2 separate regions of the Homo sapiens genome follow, and region 2 is linked to region 1. A link means that fine-mapping ties the variant in region 1 to the expression of a gene that starts in the linked region. Tissue or cell type: whole blood. Region 1 holds a variant in brackets; the other region holds the start of a gene. All regions are shown on one strand. Distances are from middle to middle.

The links. PIP is the estimated chance that this variant, and not a neighbour inherited with it, causes the effect.
Region 2: it holds the start of ANKRD9, and the variant in region 1 is fine-mapped to the expression of ANKRD9 in whole blood (INTERVAL, PIP above 0.99).

What each region holds. Positions count from the first base shown.
Region 1 is chr14:102,455,137-102,461,562 of GRCh38, forward strand. All of the region lies in intron 16 of TECPR2 (tectonin beta-propeller repeat containing 2), which reads left to right. Among named protein-coding and RNA genes, the nearest start is that of ANKRD9, 51 kb to the right of the region's middle. The variant CATAT/C (reference allele first, on the strand shown) is at 3,830.
Region 2 is chr14:102,507,150-102,513,575 of GRCh38, forward strand. ANKRD9 (ankyrin repeat domain 9) reads right to left here and starts at 2,627. Exons shown (of 4, transcript NM_152326.4): 1 at 2,380-2,627; 2 at 1,492-1,697; 3 at 1,326-1,400; 4 at 1-793. The coding sequence starts at 740. It overlaps LOC105370679 (a long non-coding RNA gene), which reads left to right and starts at 2,894. Exons shown (of 4, transcript XR_007064352.1): 1 at 2,894-4,402; 2 at 5,229-5,665; 3 at 6,082-6,185. RefSeq lists silencers at 1,415-1,576, 2,571-3,010, 3,171-3,220 and enhancers at 2,701-3,344, 3,345-3,990, 3,991-4,634.

The DNA.
Region 1 (6,426 bases):
AAGATGGCCTTGGGCCATCTGGTGTTCAGCAGATACTCATTGAGGGGTTGGGTGTGTGAACAGAGGGATGGCCTGGGGATCCTGGTCGCTGTGGATGGGCAGGTTTTCACTGACCTCCTGTGTTCCGCCTGCAAAATCATTAGCAAATCAATGTCAGTATCCGGCTGACCCCGAAATGAATCAGACAGCAGTGGGTGCAAGGAGGTCACAGGCAGAGGTGTGGGGACTCATGGCAGAGGCAGGACAGAGCTGGGCCCCAGGCGGGCTCTGGACTCTGGGCAAGCTGCTGTCACCTTGAACCGCAATTTCCTCTCCTTTCTTTTTTTTCCAGGTGGGGTCTCACTCTGTCATCCAGGCTAGAGTGCAGTGGCACGATCTTGGCTCACTGCAACCTCTGCCTTCCCAGGCTTAAGCAATCCTCGCACCTCAGCCTCCCAAGTAGCTGGGACCACAGACATGTGCCACCATGCCCACCTAATTTTTTTGTTTTTTGAGACGGAGTTTCGCTCTGTCGCCCAGGCTGGAGTGCAGTGGCACGATCTCGGCTCACTGCAGCCTCTGCCTCCCAGGTTCAAGCAATTCTCCCTGTCTCAACCTCCCGAGTAGCTGAGATTACAGGCACCCACCACCACACCTGGCTAATTTTTTGTATTTTTAGTAGAGACAGGGTTTCACCATGTTGGCCAGTCTGGTCCTGAACTCCTGACCTCAGGTGGTCCGCCTGCCTCCGCCTCCCAAAGTGCTGGGATTACAGGCGTGAGCCACCACGTACAGTCCCTGCTAACTTTTGTATTTTGGGTAGAGATGGGGTTTTATCATGTTGGCCAGGCTAGTCTTGAACTCCTGACCTCAAATGATCCACCTGCCTTGTCCTCCCAACGTGCTGGGATTACAAGTGTGAGCCACCATGCCCGGCCTTGGTTTCCTCTCCTTTCTAATGGGAGCAGCAACCCCCAAGCCCAACCCCCTGGAGGATGCACGGGGCATCCCGTCTAAATGTTGGCCATCTCCGGGCGGTGTGGTCATCCTAAGGCTGTGACACGTCTTGCTTGGGGGTGCTCTCTAGTCTTTGTTAGCTGCTGGTGGTGGGGCTTTTGCTTGTGTTGCCCCAGTTTGTGCCACAGGGAGGACAAATCCAGCATCTCTTGTTAAAGCACCACCTCGCTTAGTCCTTATCCTGCCCTGAACTTTAGATTTTGTTTATTTGAGTTATCTGGTTGATCTTGAAATGTCAGATTAAGACTCCTTTCCTGTTTCCTACACATCCTGAGAGAATGCAGCAAGTCCAGGGTTGGCAGCTTTGTGTTGGGGCAAGGGAGGTGAACAGGCAACCGGGACTCCCAGGCTGTTCCTCTGCACACGCACCTATCCCCTCAACGAGTATCTGCTGAACACTGGAGGGCTCGAGGCCATCTTGGACTCAGGGTGGACTTGTTCCTGTTTCCCTCTCGCTCTTTTTTTTTTTTTTTTTGAGACAGAGTCTCGCTCTGTTGCCCAGGCTGGAGTGCAGTGGCGCAATCTCGGCTCCCTGCAAGCTCTGCCTCCTGGGTTCACGTCATTCTCCTGCCTCAGCCTCCCGAGTAGCTGGGACTACAGGCTCCCAACACCACGCCTGGCTAATTTTTTGTATTTTTAGTAGAGATGGGGTTTCACCGTGTTAGCCAGGATGGTCTTGATCTCCTGACCTCGTGATCTGCTCGCCTCAGCCTCCCAAAGTGCTGGGATTACAGGTGTGAGCTACCGCACCCAGCCTCCCTGTCACTCTTAAGTTGAGACTCAATCTCACTGAAGCTGAGTTTCTCCCCTAGAAAGAACAGCCACCTCCCCAGCCTTCACTATGCCAGGGTAGGGGCAGTGAGCATCAGGCCAGGGGCACCAGGTGTTCAGTTATTAGGCTCTCTCCAGGTATGGTCTGTGTCCTGCAGGAAAAGCAGGTAGGTCAAGAGACTTCTCTTTTTGTTTGTTTGAGACAGAGTCTTACTCTGTTGCCTAGGCTGGAGTGCAGTGACACAATCTTGGCTGACTGCGACCTCCGCCTCCTGGGTTCAAGTGATTCTCCTGCCTCAGCCTCCCGAGTAGCTGGGATGACAGGCATCCACAGCCATGCCCGGCTAATGTTTGTGTTTTTAGTAGAGACGGGGTTTCACCATGTTGGCCAAGCTGGTCTCGAGCTCCTGACCTCAACTGATGCACCCGTCTTGGCCTCCCAAAGTGCTGGGATTACAGGTGTGAGCCACTGCGCCTGACCCAAGAGACCTTTTAATAATTACTTATTTAAGTGAAAATTTTGAATGCAGGTGTGCTGTCTGCCCAGGAGCCCGTGTATGACTGTGCATGGCGGCTGTCATCAGGTGGCATGCATTGAATGGGGATTATTGACTGTAAAGGAGAGTCATCAAGCTGACATGGCTGCTGCCTGTGTTACTTATCTGGAATTAATTGGGGTGCTTCATTTATTTTTTACAAGTCAGCAGTGGGCCGGGTGCAGTGGCTTACACCTGTAATCCTAGCACTTTGGGAGGACTGCTTGAGGCCAGGAATTTAAAACCAACCTGGCCAACATAGCAAGACCCCATCTCTAAAAATATTTGTTAAAGTCAACAGTAGGGGGTGCACACAGCAATGAATGGAAACACAGTGACTGCATTTGAGGATGTTGTTCAATATCAAATTTAGCCTCCCCCAATTGTGCTCTTCTTCCTAACTTCGCTCCTCTGCTCCCACTAAATTCCCTTTTTTTTTTTTTTTTTTTTTGAGATAGTGTCTCACCATGTTGCCCAGGCTGGAGTGCAATGGTCTGATTTTTGACTCACTGCAACCTCCGTCTCCTAGGTTCAAGCGATTCTCCTGCCTCAGTCTCCCAAGTAGCTGGGATTACAGGCCTGTGCCACCCCGCCCAGCTAATTTTTGTATGTTTAGTAGAGACGGTGTTTCACTGTGTTGGCCAGGCTGGTCTCTAACTCCTGACCTCAGGTGATCCACCCGCCTCAGCCTCCCAAAGTGCTGGGATTATAGGTGTGAGCCACTGAGCCCTGCTGCTCCCAGTAAATTCTGCTGGAAAGACCAGAGTGCTCTTTTGGCCAGTCGCTCAGCAGTGTCCTGGCCATCTACCCGAGGATCTCCCTGCTTCTGGACCTCTGCTTCCCTCCCACCACTGTCAGGGTGGAGCCCCCTCGTCACCAAGTTGCTGTACTGCAGTAGCTGCCTCCTGGCACCAGGTGTGCCCACCTCCCACCACGGCTACCAGAGCTGTCTTCCTCAAACCCAGCTCAGATGGTGTTGCCCTCCACGTTACATGGCTCCACGCTGCCACTAGAATACAGCTCCAGTCTTTGGTGTGGCACCCAGGGTCTCGCAGCCAGACCCGGCCTGCTGTTCCGAGGCCTCGTGCGTTGGGGACTCCAGCCACTCCTGGCCTTTGTGTTGGGGCCCTGGCTAACTTTCATATTTTGGGTAGAGATGGGGTTTCACCATGTTGGCCAGGCTGGTCTTGAACTCCTGCCCTTCCCTAATGTGTGGTGCATGTTCATGCCACCCATTTGCTTCTCTTCCTGGGGCCTAGCATTCCTTCCGTGGGCTGCTTTCCTTCAACTCTTCTTCCTTCAGGACTCAGTTGAGATCGCACCTCCCCACCAGACATTCTTCATTGACTGTCCCCATCATAGCACTGTGCTTCTACCTGTCATTTCAGAGCCAAGCACGGTGGCGCACACCTGTTGTCCTAGCTACTTGGGAGGCTGAGGCAGGAGGATTGCTTGAGCCTGGGAAGCTGAGCCTAATCTAGGCAACAGAGCAAGCTCCTGTTTCTTAAAAAAAAAAAAAATACACA[CATAT/C]ATATATATATATATATATATGTAATTTTAGTTTGACTCACATTATTTTTGTTGAAAGTTTACACACGGAGTGTGTAGGGACTTTACAGGCAGAGACCAATTGCTTGGTGACAGTACGTACCCAACAGGATTTTTGTTTTAATTTGGGATGGGGTCTCACTATGTTGCCTAGGCTGGTCTCAAACTCCTGGGCTCCAGTGATGCTCCCACATCAGCCTCCCAAAGTGCGGGGATTACAACTGCATGCAGCTGCACCAGCAGGATTTAAAATGTCAGGGAAAGTCAGTACTGTTTGCAGCTCCATTTCTGAGTAACTCTGGGATGTGAGTTTTGATCCTATATTTGGCCATGTTACTGGTAGTCAAAGATAAAACTGCCTTCCATGCAAGTACAGGATGTCATCACACACAGTAGCCTGGTGGATGATGTGACTCCCACCCTCCCAGGAAAATTCTCATCTCTTGCTCTAAGTTGCCATCAGCCTTCCCAGGGCATGAGGCAGAAGATGTTAGGTTATAAAAACTTGTCGGCCAGGCATGGTGGCTCACACCTGTAATCCCAGCACTTTGAGAGGCCAAGGTGCGTAGATCACGAGATCAAGACTATCCTGGCCAACATGGTGAAACCCCGTCTCTACTAAAAATACAAAAATTAGCTGGGCATGGTGGCTTGCCTGTAGTCCCAGTTACTCTGGAGGCTGAGGCAAGGGAATCGCTTGAACCCGGGAGGTGGAGGTTACAAAGATCATGCCATTGTACTCCAGCCTGGGAACAGAGCGAGACTCCGTCTCAAAAAAGCAAACCAAAAAATCTTGTTAGAGATACATTTACATGTGTTCTCCCTTCAGCCCTGGTGTTTTCTTTACAAGTGTCTTCCTGGTTGTATGAGTAGCAAGCAGCCTTGGACAGCATGACCTCTGCTCCCTCGGGGACAGTGTTGACCTTGGGCAGCACTAACTCATTGTTAGGTCAGGACCATCATCAGTCTTCTCTAAAAGGCAAGCAGAAATTTTAATTTCAGACTGGGTGTGGTGGCTCACGCTTGTAATCCTAGCACTTTGGGAGGTTGAGGCAGGAGGATCACTTAAGGCCAGGAGTTTGAGACCAGCCTGACCAACATAGCAAAACCCTGTCTCTACTTAAAATACAAAAATTAGCTGGGTGTGGTGGTGGGCGCTGTAGTCTCAGCTACTCAGGAGGCTGAGGCACAAGAATCGCTTGAACCCGAGAGGCAGAGGCTCCAGTGAGCCAAGATTATGCCACTGCTGAGCCAAGATGGTGCCACTGCACTCCAGCCTGGGCGACAGAATGAGACTCTGTCTCAAAAAATACTACTAATAATAATCAATTAATTAAAAAACAAGGCCAGGTACAGTGGCTCATGCCTGTAATCTCAGCACGTTGGGAGGCCAAGGCAGGCAGATCACCTAAGGTCGGGAGTTTGAGACTAGCCTGGCCAACATGGTGAAGCCCCGTCTCTACTAACAATACAAAAATTAGCCAGGTGTGGTGGCACATGTCTGTAATCCCAGCTACTTGGGAGCCTGAGGCACAAGAATCCCTTGAACCTGGGAGGCAGAGGTTGTAGTGAGCCGAGATCACGCCACTACACTCCAGCCTGGGTGACAGAGCAAGACTCTGTCTCAAAAAAAAAAAATTAAATTTTAATTTCAAGGATGAGGATGACTTTAGCGAAGTATCAAATAATGAACATGATTTCTACCTTTAATTTTTTTTTTTTTTTGAGACGGAGTCTCGCTCTGTCGCCCAGGCTGGAGTGCAGTGGCACGATCTCCGCTCACTGCAAGCTCCACCTCCCAGCTTCACGCCATCCTCCTGCCTCAGCCTCCTGAGTAGCTGGGACTACAGGCACCCACTGCCATGCCCAGCTAATTTTTTTGTATTTTTAGTAGAGATGGGGCTTCACCGTGTTAGCCAGGATGGTCTCGATCTCCTGATCTTGTGATCCACCCGCCTCAGCCTCCCAAAGTGCTGGGATTACAGGTGTGAGCCACTGCGCCCAGCCTCAATTTTTTTTTTTTAAATACAGCTTCCCTCTTCTTTCTACCCCTATACAAATTACCAGAGCAATTACTGCTATAGGATTAAATTAAAGGAATTCTTAAATTAAATGGTTGGCTGCTGAACCAAGTTGTAGCAGTTGAATATGGAATTTTGTAGTGATTTATTATAATCCTAGTTTTTGGAAGAAAATTTGCATCACTTAGCAGATATTTAAGATGCTTGTAACATTTCATTTCCCAGTACACATAAATATGCATTATGTCAGGCATTGGAATGTTTAGCAAACTAATGAAATTTGTAATTTAATTTATCAGGTCACAGCATTTAATGAAGAACTATTCAGTGTCAGTTTATGCCGTTAGGTAACAAACAGGATTGTGTTACGCAGTAATTTATACAGAAAAGTATTTTATAAATAAAATGTCAAATAAATGCCACTTTTTGTTTTAAAATGATATGTTTAAGAAATAATCCTAAAGGGAAAATGTCTGCTTTGTCGAATAAAGTAATTAAAGCATTTTTTTAAAACAAGAGAAAAAAATAAGGACAAAGCAGGGACAGACAGGAAA
Region 2 (6,426 bases), 52 kb after region 1:
GCCGAGCCGGCGGCACCCACGGGGGTGTACAGCGCCAGGAGGTCCAGCAGCAGCAGGCGGCGCTGGCGCGGCTCCCCGGGAGCTGAGGCGGGGGCTCCGGCGGCGGAGGGAGTGGCCCCGGCGTCGCGGCCCAGCTGGCGCAGCAGCAGCTCGAGAGGCGTGAGGCCGCCGCCGTCCCGCAGACCGGGCGAGGCGCCGTGGCCCAGCAGCAGGAAGAGGCACTCGGGGCGCGCCAGCTCACAGGCCACGTGCAGCGACGTGCCACCGCCCTCCACGCGGCTGCAGCCACGCCGGTCCAGCACGCGCGCCCGCTCCTCGGCCGGGAAGTCGCGCAAGGTGCGCAGGATGCGGCGCAGAATGCCCACGCGGTTGTAGCGCACTGCCAGCGCCACGTGCGGCCCGGGAGCCGCGCAGCAGCGGAAGCCGGCACTGGGCGGTGCGAGCGCGCGCCGCGGGAACGTGGCCAGCAGGTAATGCGCGTACGCTTGGTGGTCGTGCACGAGCGCGTAGAGCAGCGCCTCAGAGGGCGAGTAGGCGGCGGCGCGCCCGCGCTCGTCCCAGTGGAAGGCCTCGCTGGCGCGCATATCCTCCAGCAGCCACACGGGTAGCAGGTCGCGCACCGCCTGGTAGAAGGCGAACGACGACTTGCGGCACTGCTTCTGCGCTCGCGAGCGCGCCGCGCCCGAGGCCTCGGGCCCGCCGTCCGCGCCACCCCCAGGCCGCCGCGCGTCCCACGGCATGCTGGCGGCGGGGCGTTCCTGGGCCTCAAGGCATGGATCCCGCGAAGGCACACCTGCGGGGAAAGGAAGAGGCCACGGTGAGGCGCGGGGAAACTGGGGAGGCCCGGGGACTCCCCTCTGCCCCTCACACAGCCCCTCCGGTCCTGGCCCACCAGGCCTGTACCTACCTCCAGCCTCGGCCAGGCCCTTCCAGTCACCCTACAGCTCCATCTCTCCGACGCCCAGAACCACCGCCTCCATCCTTGATCTAGCTGTACCTGTTCTCCCTCCTTGAAACTGACTTGCTCTCTGGCACCTCTGCTGGAAATGCCCTTGCTGCCCATGCCCTCAAATCTCCCCTCCCCTCTCCAACCCAGGGACCCACTGGAAGAGCTTCTGTTCCCACCTAAGCCAGGTTCATACGACCCCAAATAAAGAAAAGGCCAGGGAGGGGATGAGAAAGCTTGGGCCCACATCTCAAGCTGAGGCAAATCCACTCTCCAGCCCAAGCGCAACCCTGACCCTGATCTCCGACCCCAGACCACTTGGAGGCCCCTGGAGCCTCTTCCTGGGCTGTTCAGAGGCATGATCCAGACTCAGACCTACCTGGTTCCTGCACCGCGATCACCTAGTTCCGGGGATGTGGGTATATCACAGTCCCTGGCCGAGCCTCAGCTTTATCTGTAAGAAAGGGGAGGGGTGGACGACGGCTGTGCGGGCGGGGTGAGCCTGGGGCGTGGCACCAGCCCTCTATCCAAACATGTTTGCTTACACGTTAGCTCCTGGGAGGAGATAGGAGGGTGAAAACAACCTGGAGACCGGTGTGCACCGCACTGCACAGTCTGCCATCCTCTTCAGGTCCCATACCTCTCTTGATCTCCCCGACTACTAGATGAAGCGGGTACTGCCATCCCACTTTCCAGCAGGGCACAAGCTTCTCCAATTCTCCAAGGTCAGCAAGCCACGGCAGAGCCAGGCCTAGAACTCAGGTCCCCTGCGTCTCAGTTTGGGCTCATTCCAGAATTGGTGGGGACCCCCAACCCACAGGCAATCGAGCTTAGGCCCTGACCCTGCCCTCTGAGTCCCCAGCCCCGACCTGAGCCTAGGCGTCTGACCTCTGGCTCCGTCCCAACCTCCCTACTGCCTTCTTTCAAGGGTAAGCCCTTGGTCACAAGGGGCCTGGGACAGAAGGCAGGCCGCGTCCACACACACTGACTGGGTCACTATCACTGGCAGTAACTGAGTTAAAGAGAGCGGCGCGGTGCGGGTAGGCTGTGGCCCGTGGGCAACACCGTGACTGGAGCCCCTTCCCCAAGCCTGGGCCTCCGGGCCCCAGATATGCCCTGTGCCGGCACGCGTGGGGCGCCGGGCGGGTTACGTAAAGTTCGGCCTCCCCACGTCACCGGGCAGAGTCACGGCCGCGGCTCGTGAATAAGGGGGTTGGGCCATCGAAGGCAGCGCCGCGCCCGGGGCCACCCGCCACCTCCTACCCGTCCCCTCCCGGCCTGCACGGCCAGACGTCGGGCGGCGGAGGGTCGCGGGGCCGAGCGGGGCGTCCGCGCGCAGGTGGCCGGCGCAGCGAGGGCTGCACCTGCGTGCGCGTGTGCCGGAGGAGGAGGGGGCGGCGGCCGCGGGCGCGGCGCGGGGGACGGGGACTCACCATGGGGGGCGCGGGGGCCACAGGCCGGGCGTCCCCGCCCCTGCCGCGGACCGGAGCGCGCGCTGTCCCCCGCGGGCGAGCGGGCAAAGGTCCCACGACGGACGCACGGGAGGGAGCCACCGCCGCCCGCGCCCGCCGCAGCCGCGCTCTGAGCCGCCGCGGCCGGATCGCAGGGCGGCGGTGCCGTCGCCGGCGGCGGGCGGCGGGCGGCGGGCGGCGGGCGGCGCAGTGCGGCCCCGGCCAGGCAGGACAGCGGGACCGTCCGCCGCCGCCATTGGCCCGCGCCGCCGGCCCCCGCCACCACCCATTGGCCGCCGCGCTGCACCATTGTTACGTCACTGGCCGGCGGGCGGGGCGCACCGCTGGACCCGCGGAAAACTTCGGAGAAACTTGAGGGAGCGCCGGCGGGGAGAACGGAGAGGAGGGGCGGGGCCGTGGCGAAAGGGGCGGGGCGTTGATGGGCGGGGGCGGGGCTCCCGGAACCCGAGCTGCGGGCGAAGAAAGGCTCCGAGCTCCGAGCTGCCCTAGCCCGGGAGGGCGCCGCTGCTCTGCGAACTCGGGCGCGCGCGTAGGTGGCCCGCCCTCCGCCGTGCGTGACTTTCCTCGTCGCGTCCAGCTCCCCTTTTCTTTGACCTTACGTGACCTTGGGAAAAACCTCCAGGCTGCTACCCCATCTGCACATGGGAGGGCCGGGGGTAGGAGCCGCGACCCCTAAGGGCTCCACCGCCTTCTGCCCGGCCAGGGTCGTGCCTGGCGCGCCCCCGCTCCAGCTGACCCGCGCAAGGGAGGGAGGGGCGGACGGATGGGGACAGCTGTTTAGGAGCGCGCACTGCGCCCATCTCGGCCTCAACACTCATGTTTCCACTTCGTTTCACGACCACCAGCCACAGTGGACACGATGATCCCCAGTTCACCCGCCAGCAAATCAGGGCTCAGAGAGGTGGCCTCAAAGAGAGGAGCGGCCAGGAGGGAAGCCGGGGGTTTGCCCTGCGGTTCTTCCCACATCTGGGCGGGATAGATTCGATTGGGCCTCGGCCACCCCCACCGTCTCCGTCGGGGGTTCCAAGGTTTGGGGTCATGACCTAGGGGGCTTAGGAGCCTGGGTCCATCTCAACTAATTTATGGCCTCACTCGCCCCCAGCGGCTGGGAATTCTAGGCCCATTTTACAGATGTGGACGCAGATCTGGAGAGGGGCAATGACTGCTCAACCCCCCACCCATCCTCCCAGACACGACCTTCCACCTGGAATCCCCCCACACACGTTCTCAGAGGCCAGGCAGCCGGGGTCTCATGGTGAAATCCCCACATTCCATGCAGGGGCTCTTTCTGGTTCCTTCCCTAGAATGCTGTCCCTGCCCTTCCAGTACTATCTCACCAGGGAGACCCTCCCACTCCCCCACTCCGCTCCAACCAAGCAAGGCCTCTGCCTCGCCCCGGTGGGAGGGGCCTCGTCCAGAGGGCACGCCCCTGCACACACAATCAGCCCTGTCCTGGCTTCTCTGTGTGCCCCAGCCAGTCAGTCTGGGTGGAAGTCTTACCTGGGCCCTCTCAACAGACCTAGGCAGGCCTCTGTCCCCAGCCCAACGAGCTCAATCCCTTAAGCACACACGCCACAGAGCAGTCCTGAGAGGCCAGGTGGACAGTACCATGAGGCAGACAAAGCTGTGAGGCCCAGAGAGGGTCAGGCCACCCCAGCCCAGGTAGGCACTCACATGTATCCTGCCCAGGCTGCCATGCATGGACCCACCAGGGGGATGACCAGACCCCACCAGCCCTGCCCCACCTCAGGGCGGGGGACGTTCCAGGCCACGCCATCTCTCCCAGGGAGTCCATGGCAACTGCCAAGCTTACAGCAGCCAGGTTGTCAGCAGGAGTAGGGGTATAGAGGGCACTGGGCCTGGCATCCGCACCCGCCTTTGCCTCAGCTCCACATGTCTCCTCCTGTATCTAGGCCTATCTCCCTAGGGCTTCTCCCATCTGCCGGTTCTGGATGCCTCTGAGTACGATGGTGGGGAGAGCAAAGTGAGTGAAGGTCCTGGAGTCAACAATCGGCCTTTGGGAGCCCAAACCCTGGGGGACATCTTGGGGAGATGGTGCCCATGTGGGCTGTCTGTGGCTCAAGGCTCCCCTGCTCTCTTGCCCTCTTCGAAGGCTGGAGTTGAGATACAGCCGTCTCCATGGCTACTGGTGGAATGAGGGTGAAAGGGCACCAGTGGATGCCAGGCTGTGCACTGGGCCTCAGGGCGGGTCTCTCTCCACCCCTTGATGTCTTCCCTGCCCCCGTGCCCTGACCTGCCCTCCTCACTGGGGATCCCAGAGGGTTTTTTTTTTTCCCAAGACAAAGTCTCATTCTGTCACCCAGACTGGAGTGCAGTGGTGCAATCTCAGCTCCCTGCAACCTCCACTTCCCAGGTTCAAGCAATTGTCATGCTGCAGCCTCCCAAGTAGCTGCAATTACAGGCATGCACCAGCACTCACAGCTAGTTTTTGTATTTTTAGTAGAGACGGGGTTTTGCCATGTTGGCCAGGCTGGTCTCGAACTCTTGGCCTCAAGTGATCTGCCTGCCCCAGAGACCTTTTTCTAAAAGCCAAGTCTGACCCTGTTTCTCTGCTGCCTAGAAGCTTCCTGTGGACATGGACATAGCCACAAAGTCCAGATGGGCAGAAAGAGGCATTTCTGGCAGAGGGCAAAGCAGGGGCCAAGGTCTGGAGTGTGACACAAAGGCTGCAGAGGCCACCTGACTGGCCAGGTCCCATGGGGCCTGGAATGCCCGGCAAGGATCCTGGATTTTCCCCTGAGGCCCAAGTGGAGGGGTTGGGAAGTGGTTTCACTAGTGAATTATTTTAGACACACATACAAAGAGCATCATGATGCCTGGGAGCCCGGGACCCAGTTGAAGGAGCAACACACGGCAGATCGGAAGCCCTGCGTGCCTGTCCCCTCCCTCCCCAGCCAGCCTCAGTGTGAGTCCGCGTGCGTCTTTCCCACTGTAAGTGCAAGTGGCAGCAGACATAGTAACACTCCCTGCCATGGGGCTCCACAGCACTGCCTCACCTCAGCCTCTTGCCTTTTTCTCCTGAGGTCACTTTTAGATCCAGCCCCAGGGGAACCCCCTGCTTTGGGTTGCAGCCGCCATCTCTGCTGCAGTGTCTTCTGATGAAAGCTGTCCCCTGTGGGCATGAGTGTGGACATGCTGCACCTCCTAAGGCAGCAGTGCCAAGGCTGATGGTGCCCTCCACGGTGGTTTCATGGCATCGCTGCTGCACTAGAGGCTGCCCAGGGACGTGTGAACAGCTGTGAAGGGGCAGGTTCCTCAGGGAGGGAGGATGGGCTGCGGGGAGGGTGGCTGGGGCAGGGGAATGGGCAGAGCATGACTTCCAAACACCTAGGAAGCCCCAGGTGGAGGGCGGAGGGGGGTCTTGCCATCTTGGGATAGGAGTTGACCTTTGACCCCATCATGCTCCTGCTGGGACCTGACCCAGGCACACTCCTCTTCCTCTGGGAGGGCTTGTCCCACCAGGGCAGGGGTCTGTGTGTGCCCAGGCAGGGAGCCACAGGCAGTAGGGGGAGGCTGGGGCTGCAAGCACAGAGGCCCCGGAAAGTGTGTGAGGACGCTGGGGAGTGGGAAGGGCCCTCGGAGGGGTGGTATGGCCGGCTTAGGTTTTCTCGACAACTCTAGTTGAGTATGCACTGCAGGGAGACGGAGAGGCCGCAGCCACTGAAGCCAACTGTGCTGGAGCAGGCGGAGGGCACCAGGGGTCCCTGGAGAGAAGTGCCGCCTCCTGCCAGGCCCCTGACCTATAGGTGAGGGTGTGAGCAGAAGAGGAGAATCTAGGAGGCCTCCCGGGTATTAGGGGAAAGCTGAGCACCTGGAAGATGGCAGAGCCAAGAGGTGTCCATGGCCCTGGAGATGGGGTCATGAGTATAAAGAGGGCGCTTGGAGTGTGAGGCACCAGGGATGGGAGGTGAGAGGCCCGAGGCCCCAGCCGGGGCTTCCAGGAAAGGAGGTGGGAGAGGGTCTTGGGGCCAAGAAGGCACAGGGCTT